3 separate regions of the Homo sapiens genome follow, and all the other regions are linked to region 1. The links come from fine-mapping of genetic effects on gene expression. A gene starts in region 1. Each other region holds a variant in brackets. All regions are shown on one strand. Distances are from middle to middle. Region 1 holds the start of RNF144B (ring finger protein 144B). Region 2 has its middle 52 kb from the start of RNF144B. Region 3 holds the start of LOC124901271 (a long non-coding RNA gene).

Region 1 (4,245 bases):
GCTTCTATAAATTAAGGTAGGCACCCCTGAAAGAAATGTTTCAGTACTTAGGAGCAATGGCTACAGATACCTATTCCCCAAAGTCCAAGTGAAAAGCATGACTTGTCTGGCAGCTTGGCCCTTTTCCCACATCCAAAATAATCAGTTGTACAAAGTAGGCTTAGTCCCAAAACTGCTCAGACTTTGTTCCTTCAGTAACATCTGGGTTCAGCATGATTCCTGACCTCTATCTCAAACTGGAGATTTCAAACACTAAAAACTTCACTCTCCAAGAAAGTAATGTCATAAAGTCAAGGCCAGGGGAAACAAAGAAGCCAGGATTAGCAGAAACACTTCGGAGAAAGGATTCTGACATACATATAAATGTTTCTAAACGTCTAAAATATTGAAATGACTTTTCAAGAAGGAAATTTTAAGTGCACCTCCTCAGATGAAAAATATTCATACTACTGAGGAGAAAGACGTTTTTCAGGAAGTTAAATGGTCATACCAGGTAGATAAAATAAGCTTTTTCTTTCCAGAGAGAGCATACTCTTCTCTCTGCTGTAGAGTTTGGCTCCAAAAACCTGGTTCATAATCTGAGACCCAAAAACTGATTATTTTAAAAAGACATGTCTTAAGCTGACCTAGTTTGGAAGCCTGAATGCCTTTAAATTGCCAATGAACTGAAACCATTCATGAGAATGGGCCTTTTGAATGCTGAGAATGTTCTTTGGGACTCAGCACAAAGATATTTGGCATAGATGACTGTAAATATTTGTAAAACTCTGGGTAAATGGGCAGGATTTGACCACACTCAAGCCCGACTTCCAGCACAGTAGTGTAGGAGAAAGTTATCTAGGGTGATTGTTTGGGGTTTTGGGGGGTTTTTTTGGTTGAGTTTTGTTTGTTTTAAATAAAAAGCCAAGCAACCCAATTCTACTACTCAACATCTTTTTCACGTTCACTATATATGTTTACCTTTTTTTAATCAAGATAATTAATTAGTCAGAGACTACTTTTGAAACTGAGGTTTTTCCCTTTCCCACTTTTCTAAGTTTATGCCCACGACAAAAATAAAAAAAAAAATGCCAGTCAAAGGTGTGCAAGGGCAGAGCAGGAGTTGTGTGAAACCATGACCTTGGATTTCATAATACAATTATCTACAAGTGGCTTTGTGGATCTGCTATAGGTTTTTCTCCCCCTCAGGATAGTTTTAGAAGTATTTAAGGCACTGCTGTCCATGAAAAGGACCCAGGTTGTGAAGGAAAGATAAACTAAGGAGAAGGAGGGACTCACAGAGGGATTTGATGTGAAAGGGACCAAGAGGCTCATTTCAGTGAAAGCTGCGGCAGACAGATACTCTAATTAGCCAGCAACTCAGTTAGGACTGGCTAGGTTCCTTTTGCCTCTTACCCACACCCTAAAAACTGAGTCATCCCAAAGTTCATTTATTTTGCTTCTGGGCACAGACACCCCCTAATCTGCTTCCTCAGAAATGTTAGATACATTGCCATTTAATTTATACCTCTCAATGTTCAAATAAACGTCCAGAAATGCCAAATCGGAAGAGCAGAGATAGTCCTGTTAAGAACCTCAGAGCTAATGTTTTGATAAGATACATGTGGCAGAAAGCAATATGAAACTGACAGTCTGTTATGAGAACATGAAAAAAGAACATTTCCCAGAGAAGGGAATTAATTTCTGGGAAATCTTTATGTGAATAGTGTATATGCATGAGGAGTAGACTTACAGCAGGATCCTTGAAACTCATGAGAAAAACAAAAGGTGTTTTAGAAAGAATAAGCAAAAGATACCTACCTTTTCCCTGCACAAACGACAATCAGTTCGATTTTAACTTAAATTTGAGAATGGCTCTCGTAGTATCAGAGTTTCACTGTTTCATTAGCAATTACCTGATAAAATAAGCACTATAATGCATAATCCGAGATTATGCCAACTTTTGGTCTCCCCTTAAGACCTAGGGAGAGGTCTGGTCTAATCTCGGATTCTACAATACATTCTATTATAGAAACTGTTTTATTAGAAATGAAACTACTTTCCTTTAACAAAGGCATTTTTCTTCTAAGTTAACAGGTGTTTAAGGCATTCAGAATGAATTCAGTTCTGTATGGTTTGAGCACTAGAGACAGAAAATCGAAAAATTGTGGTGTCACAGTGAGTTTCCTGTCCTTTTTCCTTAGTCCAGCAACACCATTCCGGTCTTGCAACGCCTGTAGCCTTTAAAAAGCTCGCTAAACCTACCTGGCAGCAGACCTGCGTTCCTCCGTCGCCGGGCTTCTCAGTAGCCTCCCTCGCGCTCACCGCCAGTCCGGGCTGCTGGCACACCGGACAGGAGCTCTTCCATTCTCTCCGTCTTTCCTCCGTGCTCTGCGGCTGACAGCTTTACACTTTGCAAGACTGCAACAGGACTTGCGCTCCCAGACCTACGGGTCGGGAGGAGGCGGAGTCCCCGACCGCCTCCTAGCCTTGACTGGCAGCTGCGATGCCCGGGACTGTTGCAGCGGGAGCGTGGGGCACAGCTCGCCAGCAGCGGTAGCAGCGCGTTTATTTATACAGGAAGCTCAGGCGCCGCACTTCCTACTTCCCATGTGGGTCGTACTTCAGCTGCAGGTGTTGGCCTTAACCCTATCCGAACCCGGGCGCGCTGCACCGACTCTACTGCTTGTCAGGACCTGTCTCTTGTTCTCCTGGGACCGCTGTTGCAGGAATTCAGAGCAGGGGGTGCAGGCAGCTGCCCCTAGCGCACTTCTTCTGCCCAGACAGGGACAGCTCACCTCTTGGCCTTAAGCGCCTGCTACCTCTCTGTCTGTACATATCCTCACAGGCCACCTTTCTTTATTTTCTCCCTCCTTCCCAGCTCTTTAAATCTCTTTCTTCTACTTCTAACAGCCCAGACCTGCCTTCCCACGTGGCAGACAACTGTTTTATAGAAACACTTCCCATGCACATCTCATCAAAAAACAGCTTGTACCTCACTTGTCCTTTTGCATCTAATGATGAAATTAGAATACCTGTGAATCAAATCGGGAATAATCTTAGTTTACCTCATAAAATACAGACACTTCTTGATGAAACAATGATTTCACTTGAAGTGCTTTGTAACTTAACTGGTTGTACCCTCAATTAAACAAAAATGTAACAAAATAATCCAGAAGCTGTGAGGTATTATGAAGTGCTTCCTTGCTCCAAACCCTTGGACACTTCATTTGTGTGACATTCATAATGAATCGCATACCTACTCATTCCCCATATCCCCCATAGATCACAATCACCTAAGTCTGCTGAACATTGCCATTTAGGAATGTCGCTCTGACACAAGAATCTGTGTTCACTCTGCAATCCCTCTCTACTTTTGCAACCACTGTCAGGAATGTGCTTCCTAAAAGGAAGGGACTCACAGGCCCTTTGTGGAAAGGATCTGTGCACGCCAACAGGCACCATTCCAAACGACACAAGCAAACATTGCTTCTCAGCCCTCCAAGTTGAAGAAAACCTCTAGGTCAAAGCAAAGTGCTGAATAACACAGTGTATCTACATGTGCCATGCTAGGGCAGGTAGGAGGACCAGCTCACCAGTCAGGGAGGAAGAGAAAAAGGACAGGGGCAATAAGATGATAAAAGAACCCACGGTAGGATATTTGAGCTTGAAAAGTCTTCCTAGCTATTTTAGCAAATAACCTGATTTTAAAAATAAGGAAACTGGGCTGGGTGCGGTGGCTCACATCTGTAATCCCAACACTTTGAGAGGCCAAGGCGGGCAGATCATCTGGGGTCAGGAGTTCAAGACCAGCCTGGCCAACATGGTGAAACCCCGTCTCTACTAAAAATACAAAAAATTAGCTGGGCGTGGTGGTGGGTGCCTATAATCTCAGCTACTCGAGAGGCTGAGGCAGGTGAATCGCTTGAACCTGGGAGGCAGAGGCTGCAGTGAGCCGAGATTGCGCCATTGCACTCCAGCCTGGGTAACAAGAGCGAAACTCTGTCTCAAAAAAAAAAAAAAAATAAGGAAACTGATGTCCAGGAAGATTTAAGAGATTGGCCCAAACCAGACACAGGCCAAGCTAGAATGAGACCTAAATCTGAGTTACATGAGGAAGGTGAATGTAAATGAAAACCATCCCAAAGGAAGTCCAACCTTCAGATTTAGCAATGGCTTAGGTTCTGAGATAATCTATTTCAAGGAATTTTCTTGGTATAGTGACCATTTTGGTGGACAGGAACTAGGAAAGATAAAAAGCAACCT
Region 2 (4,245 bases), 53 kb after region 1:
AAGCTCCATAGAAGGGAAAAAAAAAAGTTTTTAACACAGCACATTCTCTCTCGCTCATTTTTTTGTTTGTTTGTTTGTTTGTTTTGAGACAGCATCTCAAAACCTCCATCTCCTGGGTTCAAGCAATTCTCCTGCCTCAGTCTCCTGAGTAGCTGGGATTACAGGCGTGCACCACCATGCCCAGCTAATTTTTGTATTTTTAGTAGAGGTGGTGTTTCACCATGTTGGCCAGGCTGGTCTCGAACTCCTGACTTCAAGTGATCCACCTGCCTCAGACTCCCAAAATGCTGGATTACAGGTGTGAGCCACTGCGCCCAGCTAACACAGCACATTCTCTACCAGAGAAAAGCACAACATTCCTGAGAAGGCACCCAGAACAACTCAACAGAAACATTTTCTAAACTTTATGAAGAAGCAATGACTTGCCGGTGGAGAAGAAAAAAAAAGCAAACTGAAAAATCAAAATTCTCTTACTGCTTTTTCACTCCATGTATGACAGTTTAAACAACTTCTTCCCTTTGAATATTAGAAGTTTACAATCTTCTAGAGGCCAGACGTCTGAAGCGTGTGGAGTGACTGACAGATGTTGCATAGTCATTCAATCCTTCCAATTTGCATTACAATTCAGAGAATGGCAGCACAGAAGACTGCCTGGTCCAGCTCCCTCATTTTATAAAGAAACTGACAGGCAAATTAAATGGCTTTTGCACCTCTCATATTCATTCATGAAAAATAGATACCAGAGTCTAAGTGTTTCATTTAGTGTGGAAATTAAGGGGAAAAAACATTTCCCCCTTAGCCAAAAGGAATTAAGTACACTGGATTAATGGGTTAATAAACAGCCCAGATCATCTTCTCAGAGCCTTTAGCAGGGGCTTCTAAATCTCCTTAATACTTTAATTGGGGTTTTTCATGTAAGGAGAAATAATAGTTCCCCCCTCCACCCCCAAGCCCTGCAAGTAGAAAAACCTAAGGCTTATCATCTTAACATATATTCAAGTTATAATTGTGTGCCTCTTTTAGGGTAGTTTCTAGACCCTGTACATGTAAATGTAAGAGACTCATCCAAAGTAATACTTTCTTGCCTTTATTATGAACACATGTAAAACCACCCCTTTATTTAAGGGTAAACATTGACCTCCTATCAGGGAAATGCTATTGTCTCCAAGTGAATGCCTCATCCCTTTAACCATCAAATTACTATGTGGTTAGCATGACATACACTGGAGAAGACGCCAATAAATCCAAAGGAGATAATTTAAGAATAATAAAACAACATACATGAAACAAATAATAAAACCAACATCCAGACTAATGATCCTTAAGTGTCTGGATACCAATTCCAACTGAAAGAGTTTTCCTATTAACTCCAAGGGAAACCAGTTCTTGGCATCAGCTATCCAGGCAGAAACTCACATACAGAATATAACTTCAGAGAAGTTTAAAATGGCTCTATACACCACAATTATACCTGCCAATTAATACAGCCTATAATATGCTAGGCATGCTAACATCTGTTATTCCACCTAAACTAAACAACCTTGCCTGGCTGTGCACAGTGGCTCACGCCTGTAATCCCAGCACTTTAGGAGGCCAAGGCAGGTGGATCACCTGATGTCAGGAGTTTGAGACCAGCCTGGTCAACATGGTGAAACCCCATCTCTACTAAAAAATACAAAAATTAGTCAGGCGTGGTGGTGCATGCCTGTAATCCCAGCTACTCAGGAGGCTGAGGCAGGAGAATTGCTTGAACCCAGGAGGCAGAGGTTGCAGTGAGCCGAGATTGTGCCACTGCACTCCAGCCTGGGTTACAGAGAGACAGAGACTCTGTCTCAAAAAAATAAAAATAATAAATAAATAAACAACCAATCCTGCCAATTAGAATCATCATTCCCATTTTTAAGATGAGGAAACTGATTCTCAGAGGGCTTGGTCAAGATCAGCCAGCAAATAAATTTCAGGAGCCAGATTTATATCCTGATCTTTCTAATGCTGAAGCCAGAATTTCCTCTGGAAATGCCATGGAACTTTTCCCCCATTAGCCTGAAATTCACACAATTAATTGCTTTCCTTAAACATCTTCAGGAAACATCTTCGTTTTATGT[C/G]AGACAGTGGCACACACTTTGGCTGATGCTTGTGCTCGGATGAGCATATCTGATTAACTCTTACTGCCATCCAGCAGAAAACTGGCTCTGTGGGAGGAGGCCAAGGGCAGGAATGCTTCACCTGCACTAAGCAAAGCAAGGAAAATTAAAGGATTTGGGGGGCAGGCTGGCTTATAACAGTATGGCAGTGATATCCAGATAACAAGTCATCCCATCACAGGTATTACTTTCATACTTTGAACAAATAGAATGAATTATAGAGAAGTTCTATCTAAGCCACTATTAAAAGAGCTCTTGTGAAAATACATTTGGGAAAATCTACAAGTGAATGCAGTGACTATATCTAAGCATGTGGATATGAAGGGAGTCTAAGAATTTGATGATACTACTCCTTAAGAACAATCTAAGGGACATTCAGAAATTCTTAGTTGATTTTACCAGTAACAGTGAGGCACTCATTCATTTAGCCAACACATATTATTCAAGCACATATTATATGCCTGTTTCTAATTTATTTTTTATTTTTTTAGAGATACAGTCTTGCTCTGTCACCCAGACTGGAGTGCAGCAGCAGCATGATTACAGCTCACTGTAACCTTGAACCCCTAGGCTCAACTGATCCTCTTGCCTCAGCTTCTTGAGTAGCTAGCACTACAGGCATGTACCACCACACCCAGCTTTTTATTTATTTATTTTTGTAAAGATGGGGTCTTGCTATGTTGCCCAGGCTGGTCTTGGGCTCCTGGCCTCAAGTGATCCTCTGCCTTGACCTCCCAAAGTGCTAGGATTACAGATGTGAGTCACTGCGCCCAAAGCCTGTTTCTAGATACGATTTGCATCTACCCTGTCCTCAGGCTGCATCAGAGAAACCATGTCTTTATCTTTGGCCTAAGTGGTTCCTGGATGGCCTTTGGCAGGTAACCTTTTGCTATTTCAGTTCCAGCTGGGTAGAAGCTGGCCTGTGACTTCAAAGTTATGGGAAGCAGAGGTCTTACATGTGGTGTTATCTGACATCATCTTAAACTGTCTTTAGGACCAAGGAGGACCCATGAGGTTGGAACAAAGTTATTCTGGGGATGAAAGGAGCTAAGCTATGCCTCCGTTAATCAAAACAAGGCATCGGATGGGTGGGAAAAGCATCTAACATCCTTTGCCCAGAACACCAAATATCCCTTTATGGGAGCTTCTCACTTCCGTTTTAAGAATAAAAAAAGAAGAGAAGGTAACTGGGGTGTAAGCCTGTTGAAAAGAAAATGGATAGCTCACATGTTCAAAATTATGTATTTTAGATGTTTTCCAAAGATTCTGATTACATACGGGTTTTCCAGAAACATGTCATTATATAAAAGCAGGATTTGCTTACTTGAGTATAGGAGTACAAGTAAAGTTATTAGAGATGGCAAAGTTTATGTGGAAAATTATCCCAGAAGCAGTAGCCTACCTAGAAAATTTGACCTCATGTAAATTAATTTGTAACACCATCCTTCTCTATATGACAAAATTATTTTTGTTATAATTGTAAAAAGAAATAATAGCAATGGGCACCATAAGTGGAATAACTTATTGCCATTTTCTTAAAAAGGATACTGAAGGATACAAAAGTAATCCTGTACATCGATAGAGGCTGTGAATAAAGAAATACCCCTTTTGGCAGTTAAAGGTTTTTTTTTTTTTTCGAGACAGGATCTCACTCTTTCCCAGACTGGAGCACAGTGGCGTGATCATAGCTCACTGCAGCTTCAAAATCCTAAAAGCTCAAGCGATCCTCCCCGCTCAGCCTCCCAACTAGCTAGGACTACAGGTACGAACCACCATGCCCAGCTAATTTTTTTATTTTTTATTTTTTGTAGATACAGGATCTCACTTTGTTGCCCAAGCTGGTCTTGAGCTCCCGGGCTCAAGCAATCCTCCCACCTCAGCCTCCCAAAGTGCTGGGATTACAAGGATGAGCTACTGCACCTGGTCAAGATAAAGTATTAAATCCATTTGAACATTCTCACCAGGCAACCCAGACATCTGAGCATGATTCCTGACTTATACTTGAGCTCTTACTCCTTATTGTTACATTGGCTCTCTTAATTCCAGAAGCCTGAACCACACAGCTGTTCATATCCCTGAGAACAGCAAATCCAACAGTAAA
Region 3 (4,245 bases), 32 kb before region 1:
TAGGGGTGCTATCATTGTCACAGGCAAATGAAAAAAAGAAGAGAAGAATCTGGGCCCAGTGAATGCTGAACACGTCAAAATTTTTAGTGATTCCAACAGAGAAAGGTGACAAGATCACTGAATTACCACTTAGTCATTGGAACACATCAAACTCAGAGCCTAACTGGAAAAAGCAATTTACCCAAAGTTAAACATCACTCATCACATTAATGTTAACTTACATTTTATTGGTCTGTAATTTTATTTTATATATATGTGTGTGTGTGTGTGTGTGTGTGTGTGTGTGTGTGTGTGTGTATAATATATAATTTTTTTTTTTGAGATGGTTTCTCACTCTGTCACCCAGGCTGGAGTGAAGTGGTACGATCTCAGCTCACTGCAACCTCTGCCTCCTGGGGTCAAGCAATCTTCTCACCTCAGCCTCTGAGTAGCTGGGACCACAGGTGCGCACCACCATGCCAGGCTATTTTGTATTTTTGGTAGAGACAGAGTTTCGCCATGTTGCTCAGGCTGATCTTGAACTCCTGAGCTCAAGTGATCTGTCTGCCTCAGCCTCCCATAGTGCTAAGATCTCAGGCATGAGCCACTATGCCTGGCCTTATTGGTCTGTAATTTTAATCAATATTAAGTTTGTATAATTATTGTGGTGTTCTTATTCTTTAAGAGATATATGCCTAAATATGCTTATATACTACTTAGTATCATGTTTGTATAAGTTTTCGTAAGACTCTAATAAAGGAAATTTTAAAATAGTTTGATATTAAGTTCCAATTCTTTTCCCCTTCAAAAGGAAGCCACATAAAATCATCAAAAGGAGGGAGAATGGACTGATTCTCAATAGCAGTGAGGCTGGTGGTATTGCCTTCTCACTTGGGGACATACTAGAATATCAGACTATCCAGAAGGAATTTTATAAATGATGCAACCTCCCCCGCTCCCCAAATTCTCCAGAAGACTTGGCTTTTCCTCCTCTACTTGCCAACCTTTCTATGATGACCGTAGGTAACACCAGATGTTTATTGTACACATGAGCAATGTAGCACGCCCAGCATGCTGCATTGCAAATGACTATCAACTTGCCTGCCTCCTCTATAGCCTAGAAGCTCCTTCTAGATCTAGATTATATCTGCTCCTCTTCATGTCCCCTACAAGCACCTAATCAATCACAGGACCTGGCACATAGTAGACACTCAGGCTTCTCTGAGAGCTGGAAGCCTGAATCCAGCACTTACTGGTTGAGTATCCCTAATCTGAAAATCCAAAATCTGAAATGCTCCAAAATCCAAAACTTTTTAAGCACCAATATGGTGCTCAAAGGAAATGCTTATTGGAGGATTTTAGACTTTAGATTTTCAGATTAGAGATGGTAGACTAGTAAGTATAATGCAAATATTCCAAAATCAAAAAAAAAATCAGAAACCCGAAACACTACTGGTCCCAAGCATTTCAGATAAGGAGATAGGGGATACTCAGTCTGTGCTCAACTTTGTGGCCAAGCTCCTTCACCTCTGATAACTGAAACATATGAACCCACCCAAACACACATCCATCCTCTGTTCTTCTTTTCTTGACACATAGGAGCCAACTCTGCTTTTCTGGTTCCCATCTCCTCCTGCCTTTCAGGAAATTTACCTATTCATTACCTGTTTTCTTTCCTATGTCTTGAATTTTGTCCTGTCTATACTTGAACATGTTCAAAATATCCTAATCAAAGAAATCAAAGAAAAGTCATAATAAAACAGCATAGAACAGCCCTCTCTCACTCCTCTTCCTGGCTGTATACTGCCTTCTTCACTCCTCAACTCTTCACAATCAAATGTTTGAAAGAGTTGTCTTCCCTCACTCCTTCACCAATCC[C/G]ATCCCAACTCCTCCCTGCCACTCAACTGAAGTGGCTCTAGGTCACTGAATCCAGTACACATTTCTTCCTTCCCAACCTCTCAACAGCAGTATCACACACAGCTAACCACTCCCACCTTCCTGAAACCCTTTTTCCCCTTGTCTTCTGGATCCCATACTCTTCTGGTTTTCATTCTTCCTCTCTAGTCACTCTTTCTCAATCTTCTGCATTTTCCTCAACTCAACTTTTAAATGCTGGAATTTCAGGAAAGGACCTAAACTCTCTTCTTTCTACACTTTCTTCCTGGGTCGCCTCATTTGCTATATAGAACCAGTTGTGCTAGTCCACTGCCTATTTGCTCTCAGGAGAATATATCCCAAAAGGCCAGTGGTTCCCTAGCAGAGAGCAGTGCCCCCGAAGAAAATGATCTAAGCCTGGTATGTTTTTATGGACAAGAAACACTGGAAGATATGGGACACTACTGGGAAGGGTATCCTTAATAAAAAGCCATAGGCAGGAGGAGGAGGGGTGGATGGACAGAGGATAAGGAACTTCAGAGATAACATTCGCCTGCCTTACTATTCAACTACCTTACTGACAATGTTTCTCAAACTTGAATGTCCATCCAAGTTATTTGAGGATCCCATCAAAAATGCAGATTCTGATTCAGTGGATCTTGGGTGGGGTCTGAGGTTTTGCCCTCCTTGTAAGTTCCCAGGTCTCGTTGGTGCCACTGGCACACAAACCACACTTGTAAGTACCAAGACCCATGTCAAAGATTCTCCACATCAGCTTTTTAATAGAATTATCTGGGAAGGTTTCCAGAAGTCCAATGCCCAGGCCATACCACAGACCAATTAATTCAGACTCTCTAAGAGAAGGATCCAGGTGTCAGTGTATATTATATATATAGCATTATTATATATGATATGTAAATATTATATATTTTATATTATGTCATGTTTTATTGAGATATAATTCAGATATCTATAACTGAGATATAATTCACGTACCCATACAATGCACCCATCTAAAGTGTACAATTCAGTATTTTTAGTATATTCACAGTGTATAACTATCACCAAATTTGATTTTAGAACATTTCATAATCCCAAAAGAAACTCTGTGCCCATTAGTACATGCTCCCCATTTCTCCCCCAGATCCTCCATGCACAGCCCTAGGGAACCACCATTTGACTTTCTGTATGTATAGATCTTCCTACTCTCTACATTTCATATAAATGGAATGATACAATATATGGTCCTTTGTCAATGGCTTCACTTAGCATAATGTTTTCAAGATTCATACATGTTGTAGCATGTATTGGTACTTCATTTATTTTATTGCTGAATAGTATGCCATTGTGTGAATATACCACATTTTGTTTATACTTTCATCAGTTGATGGACATTTGGGTTGTTTCCAGTTGAGTGGTATTATGAATTATGCTGCTATGAGCAAGTTTTCATGTGGACATACATTTTCGTTTCTCTTGGATATTTACCTAGGAGTAGGTATGGTATATGGTAACTCTATCTTTGCCTTTTGAGGAACTGCTAGATGATTTTCCAAAGCAATTGCATCATTTTCCATTCCCACCAGCAGTGTATGAGAGTTTCAACTTCTTTAAATTCTCATCAAAACTCGTTATTTTCTGTCTTTTTTATTATAGCCATCTTAATGTGAAGTCGAATATCATTGTGGTTTCGATTTGCATTGCCCTGTTGGCTAGTGATTTTGAGCATCTTTTCACATGCTTATTGGTAATTTGTACATCATCTCTGAAGAAGTCCCTATTCAGAACTATCTATACTTTCATCTATTTGTAACTGAGTTATTTGTGTTTTCATTACTGAGTTGTAAGAATTCTTTATATATTCTAGCTGTATCCCTTATGAGATATGACTTGCAAATATTTCCTCCCATTCTGTGAGTTATCTTTTAACTTTCTTGATGATGTCCATTGAAGCAAAAAGGTCTTTAATTTTGATGAAGTCCAATTTATCTGCTTTTTCTTTTGTCGCTTATGCTTTTGGTGTCACATCTAAGAATGTCTTGCCTAACCCAAGATCATGAAAATTTTTCTATTTTCCTATGTTTTCTTCTTCTAAGAGTTCTATAGTTTCAGCTGTTATAGGTGTATGGTCCATTTTTGTTAATGTTTGTCTGTGGTATGAGGAAGATCACAGACATCTTAATTCTTTTGCAAACAGATATCCAGTTGTCCAGCACCATTTGCTGAAAAACATTTCTTTCCTCTTTGAATTGTCTTGGCACCCTTGTTGAAAATCAAATGACAAAAAATAAGATTTATTTATTTATTTATGGACTCTCAATTCTATTCCATTGATCTATCTGTCCATCCTCATGACAGTATCACAATGTTTTGATTACTGTCGCTCTGTAA

Evidence for each region. PIP is the estimated chance that this variant, and not a neighbour inherited with it, causes the effect. A credible set is the group of variants that fine-mapping cannot tell apart.
Region 2: its variant is the best candidate, but not a certain one, in a credible set for the expression of RNF144B in whole blood (TOPMed, PIP 0.69).
Region 3: its variant is the best candidate, but not a certain one, in a credible set for the expression of RNF144B in whole blood (INTERVAL, PIP 0.72).

What each region holds. Positions count from the first base shown.
Region 1 is chr6:18,385,630-18,389,874 of GRCh38, reverse strand. RNF144B (ring finger protein 144B) reads right to left here and starts at 2,525. Exons shown (of 8, transcript NM_182757.4): 1 at 2,245-2,525.
Region 2 is chr6:18,333,061-18,337,305 of GRCh38, reverse strand. No RefSeq gene overlaps it. Among named protein-coding and RNA genes, the nearest start is that of RNF144B, 52 kb to the left of the region's middle. The variant C/G (reference allele first, on the strand shown) is at 2,106.
Region 3 is chr6:18,417,326-18,421,570 of GRCh38, reverse strand. The region is part of intron 2 of RNF144B (ring finger protein 144B); the gene reads right to left. LOC124901271 (a long non-coding RNA gene) reads right to left here and starts at 280. Exons shown (of 2, transcript XR_007059487.1): 1 at 1-280. The variant C/G (reference allele first, on the strand shown) is at 1,858.